Linked DNA regions of Homo sapiens: region 1 is reported to be linked to region 2. Evidence: microRNA targets listed by miRTarBase, many of them from high-throughput screens and not tested one by one. Region 2 holds a microRNA gene; the other region holds the end of a gene's coding sequence.

Region 1 (3,000 bases), not on the chromosome of region 2:
AAAAAAAAAGTTTATAAGAGATTCCAGACTAATGTGAAATTTTATTATTAAATAAATGCAAATTCTATTGTAATTTGACCCCGCTGTTCATTCTGTGTTGTTCTCTCTTGTTAGTGGTGGACTTGCTTTGTGAAGAGACAGTTCATGAACAAGAGTCTTTCAGGACCTGGACAGTGAAGGGAGCCCGGGCAGCCACCGTCTCCAGAGCCCTGGGCAGCATTTTCCAGCAAGATGTACACAATCTTTTGCCTTTATTTCGTAAAGTTTTATACAGAAGAGAGAAGAGCATGTCTTTACTTGAAAAACTCTTGATCAAGAATTTGGGTGGGAGAAAAGAAAGTGGGTTATCAAGGGTGATTTGAAATTTTCTGCAGCATTAAAGCTGGCGCTTAATAAGAATAAGTAATAATAAAGAAATTTCTAACATTCCATGTCAGAAAAACTTTATTGCCAGTCTTTGACATTCACTTACAATTTGTTTTGAGATAAAATTCACATTCCATAATGCCCTTTTAAAGTGTACAATTCACTTTTTTTAGTATATACATGAAGTTTTACAACCATCCCCAGTAAATCCAGAGCATTTTCATCACCCCGGTGTAGTGAACCTGCACTCTTTAGCAGCCACCCCACCCCACATTCCTCCCCAAGCCCCCTGTCCCTCCCACCCCTCCTCCCAGTATTAATCTACTTTCTGTCTCTATGGATTTGCTTATTCTGGATAATTCATGTAAATTGAATTTTTTATACAACATGTGGCCTTTTATGTCTAGCTTCTTTGACTTAATGTTTTCTAATTCATCCATGTTAGAGCATATATCAGTGCTTTCTTTTCTCTTTTTCTTTTTTTTCTCTCTGTGTATATGTATGAAATAAAATATACTAATATGGCCAGGCGCAGTGGATCACGCCTGTAATCCCAGCACTTTGGGAGGCCCAGGCGGGCAGATCACCTGAGGTCGGGAGTTTGAGACTAGCCTGACTAACACGGAGAAACCTGGTCTCTACTAAAAATACAAAAACCAGCCGGGCCGGGTGCGATGGCTCACGCCTGTAATCCCAGCAATTTGGGAGGCCCAGGCAGGCGGCTCACCTGAGGTCAGGAGTTTGAGACCAGCCTGACCAATATGATGAAACAATGTCTCTACTAAAAATACAAAAATTAGCCGGGCATGGTGGCACGCGCCCGTAATCCCAGCTATTCGGGAGGCTGACACAGAAGAATCGCTTGAACCTGAGAGGCAGAGGTTGCAGTGAGCCGAGATCGCACCATTGCACTCCAGCTTGGGCAACAAGAGCGAAACTCCATCTCAAAAAAAAAAAAAAAAAAAAAAAAAACTCAGCTGGGCGTGGTGGCGCATGCCTGTAATCCCAGCTACTCGGGAGGCTGAGGCAGGAGAATCGCTTAAACCTGGGAGGCAGAGGTTACGGTGAGCCGAAGGTTGCGGTAGGCTGAGATCGCGCCATTACACTCCAGCCTGGGCAACGAGTGAAACTTCGTCTCAAAAAAAAAAAACGGCCAGACGCGGTAGCTCACGCCTGTAATCCCAACACTTTGGGAGGCCAAGGCGGGCGGATCATAAGGTCAGGAGAATCGAGACCATCCTGGCTAACACAGTGAAACCTCCGTCTCTACTAAAAAAATACAAAAAATTAGCCAGGCGTGGTGGCGAGCGCCTGTAGTGCCAGCTACTCAGGAGGCTGTGGAAGGGGAATGGCGTGAACCTGGGAGGCGGAGCTTGCAGTGAGTGGAGATTGCACCACTGCACTCCAGCCTGGGCAAGAGAGTGAGACTCCATCTCCAAAAAAAAAAAAAAAAACCTAGAGTTTATGGTAGTACTTGAATGATTAGAGTATTTGCATTTTGTTTTTACGGGTGAATATATGATTTTAATATGTGGGTTAAATGCTCTTGAGCATCTGTTTAAAGACTTGAATTACAAGCTAGCTAAATACCACAGTTCACACAGCAAAAGGAATGGATATGTGAAAACCTACTCCATAGATAAACAGAAGGACAGTCCTGAAGCCAAAAGAGTGGTGGTGGTGTGTCGTGGGGGGTTTTGTTTGTTTAATTAAAATTTGTTTGTTTGTTTGTTTTTGAAACAGGGTATCACTGTTGCCCAGGCTGGAGTGCAGTGGCATGAACACGGCCCACTGCAGCCTCGACCTCTTGGGCTCAAACAATCTTCTCGCCTTAGCCTCCCCAGTAGCTGGGACTACAGGCACACATCTCCAGGCCCAGCTAATTTTGTATTTTTGGTAGAGATGGGGTATCATGTTTTTTTGTGTTTTTTGTTTTGGTTTGGTTTGTTTTTTGCTTTTTTTTTTTTTTTTTGAGACTGAGTCTCTCTCTGTCTCCCAGGCTGGAGTGCAGTGGTGCAATCTTGGCTCACTGGAACCTCTGCCTTCCAGGTTCAAGCTATTCTCCTGCCTCAGCCTCCTGAGTAACTGGGATTACAGGCTTGTGCCACCACGCCTGGCTAATTTTGTATTTTTAGTAGAGACGGGGCTTCACCATATTGGCCAGGCTGGTCTCAAACTCCTGACCTCAAGTGATCCATCCACCTCGGCCTCTTAAAGTCCTGGGATTACAGGTGTGAGTCACAGCGCCCAGCAAGACAAGGTTTTGCTGTGTTGTCCAGGCTGGTCTCAAACTCCTGGACTCAAGTGATCCACCCACCTCAGCCTCCCAAACACTGGGATTACAGGCATGAGCCACTGCACCTGTCCTAAATTAAAATTCTTAACCCAGAATCAGAGTTTTGGTGTTTGGGTTGGAACTTCTGCCACAGGGGTTACAGACATGTCAGAAAGGAGAGAAAGCCACCCTGATTCATTTCAAGATTACAGGTTTGGGGCCAGGCCTGGTGGCTAGAGGTCGAGGCTGCTATGAGCCATGATCGCACCACTGCACTCCAGCCTGGGCGACAGAGTTGAGACCCTGTCTCAAAAAAGAAAAAAAAATTTTATTTTAAACATATCACCACGTTGGCCAGG
Region 2 (3,147 bases):
GGCCAGGGAGGAGAGGCAGGAGAGGGAGCCAGGACCGGGACCGAGGGCGGGGTCAGCCCGGGCAGAGGCACCTGGCTCGAGGCTGTCCTGGGGGAGCTGGCAGCAGCTCCAGCCCTGCCTGGAGGTGGGAGCAGGGATCTGTAGCCCCACTGCAGGCAGGGCCTGGAGCAGCGCAGGCAGTGCCCTACCCGCTTACTGCAAGAGAAGTCACCCCTCAGGCCTGGGGTCCAGGAAGCCCTTACCCACTAGAGGCCATCTGGGGTGGGGACCCAGGACTAGGTAACTACCCAGAGGTTGAATGCCTGGGTCAGACTGAGTTTGCTGATCTTCCGCACCCTCTAAGTACACACACTCAGGGAGGAGCCCGAGACAAGAGAAGGGAACAGAGAACCCGAATCCGGGCTTGGGCGGCTGCCGCTTGGCCCCTGTAGCCTCTGTGCCTGCTGACATGACAGCAAGGAGACAGGTTGTCAGAGGGGCCTGGGAGAGCGAGGGAGGGCCGAGGTAGGGGTTCTTATCCTGGAGCGCTCCCTCCTTGCCCTCTTTTCCTGTCTGAGTTCTGGAATGTACTGATGCAGGGGGCTCTGGCTTGAGCTAGAGGGGGAGGGAGTCCTCCGCAGGGGCTGCAGGTCCAGGGATTCCCCAGGGCCTGGACTTACATGTGCCCATGCTGCAGACAGAGCGGGAATGGCAAGTGCACCTGCGCCCCCCGCCCCTCCTTACCTCCAGATGCCTGCTGGAGGGGGAGTTGGGGGTCCAACAGAGTCTGGGGCCAGGAGGGCCTTGTGGGAGCCAGCTGGGGTGAGGACAGAGCCCGGCTCTGAGAGCCCTGGGGCCTAGTAGAGAAGGGGTGCTCCTTCCCCACTCCTCACATGGGTGGGAAGGCGCCCTCAGGCAAGAAGACTGGGACACAGGTACACTCGCCAGGGACCATCCTTCACTCTGCAGCCTTTATTCACTGATGGGATTCTGCCCCAGTCCCACCCCCGTGGGGGCAGGATTTAGAGCAGGAACCGCCCCTCCGGGTCCTTTCCTGGGGCCTGTGCCAGGCTGAGCAGACTCAGGAGGCGTCTCTCCGAGGGTGTGGGCTGTGATGGGGCCCTGTGCACCCATCCAGGCTGCCCAGACCAGGAGAGCACAGGTCAGCCGGACACATGATGGTAATGGGCTGGGCAGTGGGAGGGAAACGTGCCTGGGGGAGGGGGTGGCAGGTGCCAGCTGAGCTTCCCGGTGACACACCCTGGGCTCAGCTGAGATGGGCTCAGCTGTGACGGGGCACCCAGGCCAGGCTGGCTGGGCCACAGGAACCGAGTGAGCTGGTCCAAGACTCAGGACTAGGGCTCAAGCACTCCTAGGGAGGAGGGTGGGTGGCGTCCCCCGCCGGCTCCTCCTGTGCCCCTCCCTCGCGAGGTCCCGGCGGACCCACTCCCCAGCCCCCACCACGCAGACGGGAGAGGCTGACGAGAGGCATGGAGAGGTGAGGCCCGAAACACCCGTAAGATATGGGAGCTCCCCCCACCTGCAGGTTCTGAGGGGCTCCTCGGCGCCGTCAGCCACCTCTCACACCCCCTCACGGCCGCGCACCGGCCCCCGCGCCTCAGCCTCCCCCGCCGACCCCTCAGCCCCGCCCGGCCAACTCGCCCAGCCGGCCCGGCGACCTGCGTTGTTCCAGCTGCCCCAGCACAGCCCCCGTCCCTCCCTCCCTCCTCGGACAAGCACGGGAGTGAAGACACGGAGCCAGAGCTCGGGCGCCGGCCTGGGAGCCCCCGGCAGGCTGGACGCAAGGCGGGCGAAGGCCTGGGAGCCTCGGGCAGGCTGGATCGAGGCGGCCCCCTGAGGCCCGCTGCAGGCTGGACGCACGGCAGTCAAAGGCAGGAGGCCTCCCGCTGGCTTCCTTCTGCGGAGCTCCGGCCCGGCGCAGGCCGGGGCCACAGGTTGTGGTCCTGGACATGAGATGGCAGAGGCCGGCTCTGCAGAGTCCCCCTGCAGGGCGGCAAAGCAAGCCCCCTCCTGGAAGAATGCCAGGGGCTGGGGCCTTTCTGAATGGAGAGCAATGTGCCCAAGACCAGCTGTCATCTTAAATCTCCCCACCCAGGGGCCTCCCCACCCCCAGGGGCCTCCCCACCACTTCTCTCAGCTCAACACCTGGGGATAGAGAGGCCTCAGGCCAGGAGGGAACCCTCCCCATGTCCCTCTCCCTCTCCTTCCTGGCCTTTCTCCTCCTCCAACCCAGAGGGAGGCATTTTCCAACCTAGGGGGTGAGTCCCGGCAGCCCATCCCCTTCCCCCCGTGCAGGGAGGCATCTGGGCCCTTCCGGCCCACCCCTCCCTCTGGCCCTGGGGCTGCTCAGGTCAAGGTCACCGGGCCTGCTCCCCGCTGGGCCAGGGACTGGACCCTCTCTTCCCTGATCCCTGGGCTGAAGTTGCTGTAGCCGACCCATCCTTCCACAGCGCTCCCCTCCCTCAGTCACTGGGACACTTCCCTTCCCCAGTGCTCTGAGGATTTTTTTGGGGGGGAAGGGGATTATTTGTTTAATGGCAGATTCATCCCCCACCTCAAACCCAGAGTCTCCAGTTCCCAGGCTCCTGCTCCTCAGGTTAAAGCACAGAGCTCTTGCTCCCTGGCTCGTAGGCAGCTGCTGTCTCGTTCCATCTTCCCCCTCCCGATCCTGACGGTTCTGGACCACCCCACTCTGCTGCTCCTCACTAAGCCCCCACCAGCCTTAACTTTGGATACCTTTTAGGTCATGCATTCTCGTCCCCTGCTGACATGTCCCCACCCCGCAGTTTCCTCTTGGTCATCAGCACCTTCACCCCAAAGCTTTAGGCGAGACTCCCATCCTGACAGTGGCCCCCATCCCCAATGATGGACCCAGACCTCATTTGTCCAGACCCAGCCTGGCAGCTGCCCGTGACCAGTGGCTCTGGAGCCCTCCCAAGGAGAATGCAGAGAGATGATGGCGCCACGCCACGCCCATCCCTCCAGAAGCTTCCACGGCTCACACAGGAGGTGCAGACTGTAAAGCCGGCTTTATCCACCTTTACAGCCTCGTCCTAGACACTCAGTGTCAACAGACTCGAATGCCTAAGGTACCGGAATTTGGCGTGGACAGTCAGCCTGCATTGCCTCCCACGGTGCTGGAGTAGG

Evidence for each region. Region 2 holds the annotated microRNA hsa-miR-149-3p (AGGGAGGGACGGGGGCUGUGC, at 1,681-1,701, opposite strand). A microRNA usually pairs through its seed, bases 2 to 8, with sites in the 3' UTR of a target mRNA and lowers its output. Matches are read on the target gene's strand: a 7mer-m8 pairs with bases 2 to 8, a 7mer-A1 pairs with bases 2 to 7 and ends in A, and an 8mer does both.
Region 1: the mRNA of ARPC3 is a reported target of hsa-miR-149-3p. The part of its 3' UTR that is shown has no 7-base or 8-base seed match.

Annotation. Positions count from the first base shown.
Region 1 is chr12:110,432,332-110,435,331 of GRCh38, reverse strand. It overlaps ARPC3 (actin related protein 2/3 complex subunit 3), which reads left to right. Exons shown (of 7, transcript NM_001278556.2): 7 at 115-509. The coding sequence ends at 177. Among named protein-coding and RNA genes, the nearest start is that of ARPC3, 17 kb to the left of the region's middle.
Region 2 is chr2:240,454,610-240,457,756 of GRCh38, reverse strand. MIR149 (microRNA 149) reads right to left here and starts at 1,756; the gene lies at 1,668-1,756. All of the region lies in intron 1 of GPC1 (glypican 1), which reads right to left. GPC1-AS1 (GPC1 antisense RNA 1) reads left to right here and starts at 1,057. Exons shown (of 3, transcript NR_161169.1): 1 at 1,057-1,160. RefSeq lists an enhancer at 1,806-2,456.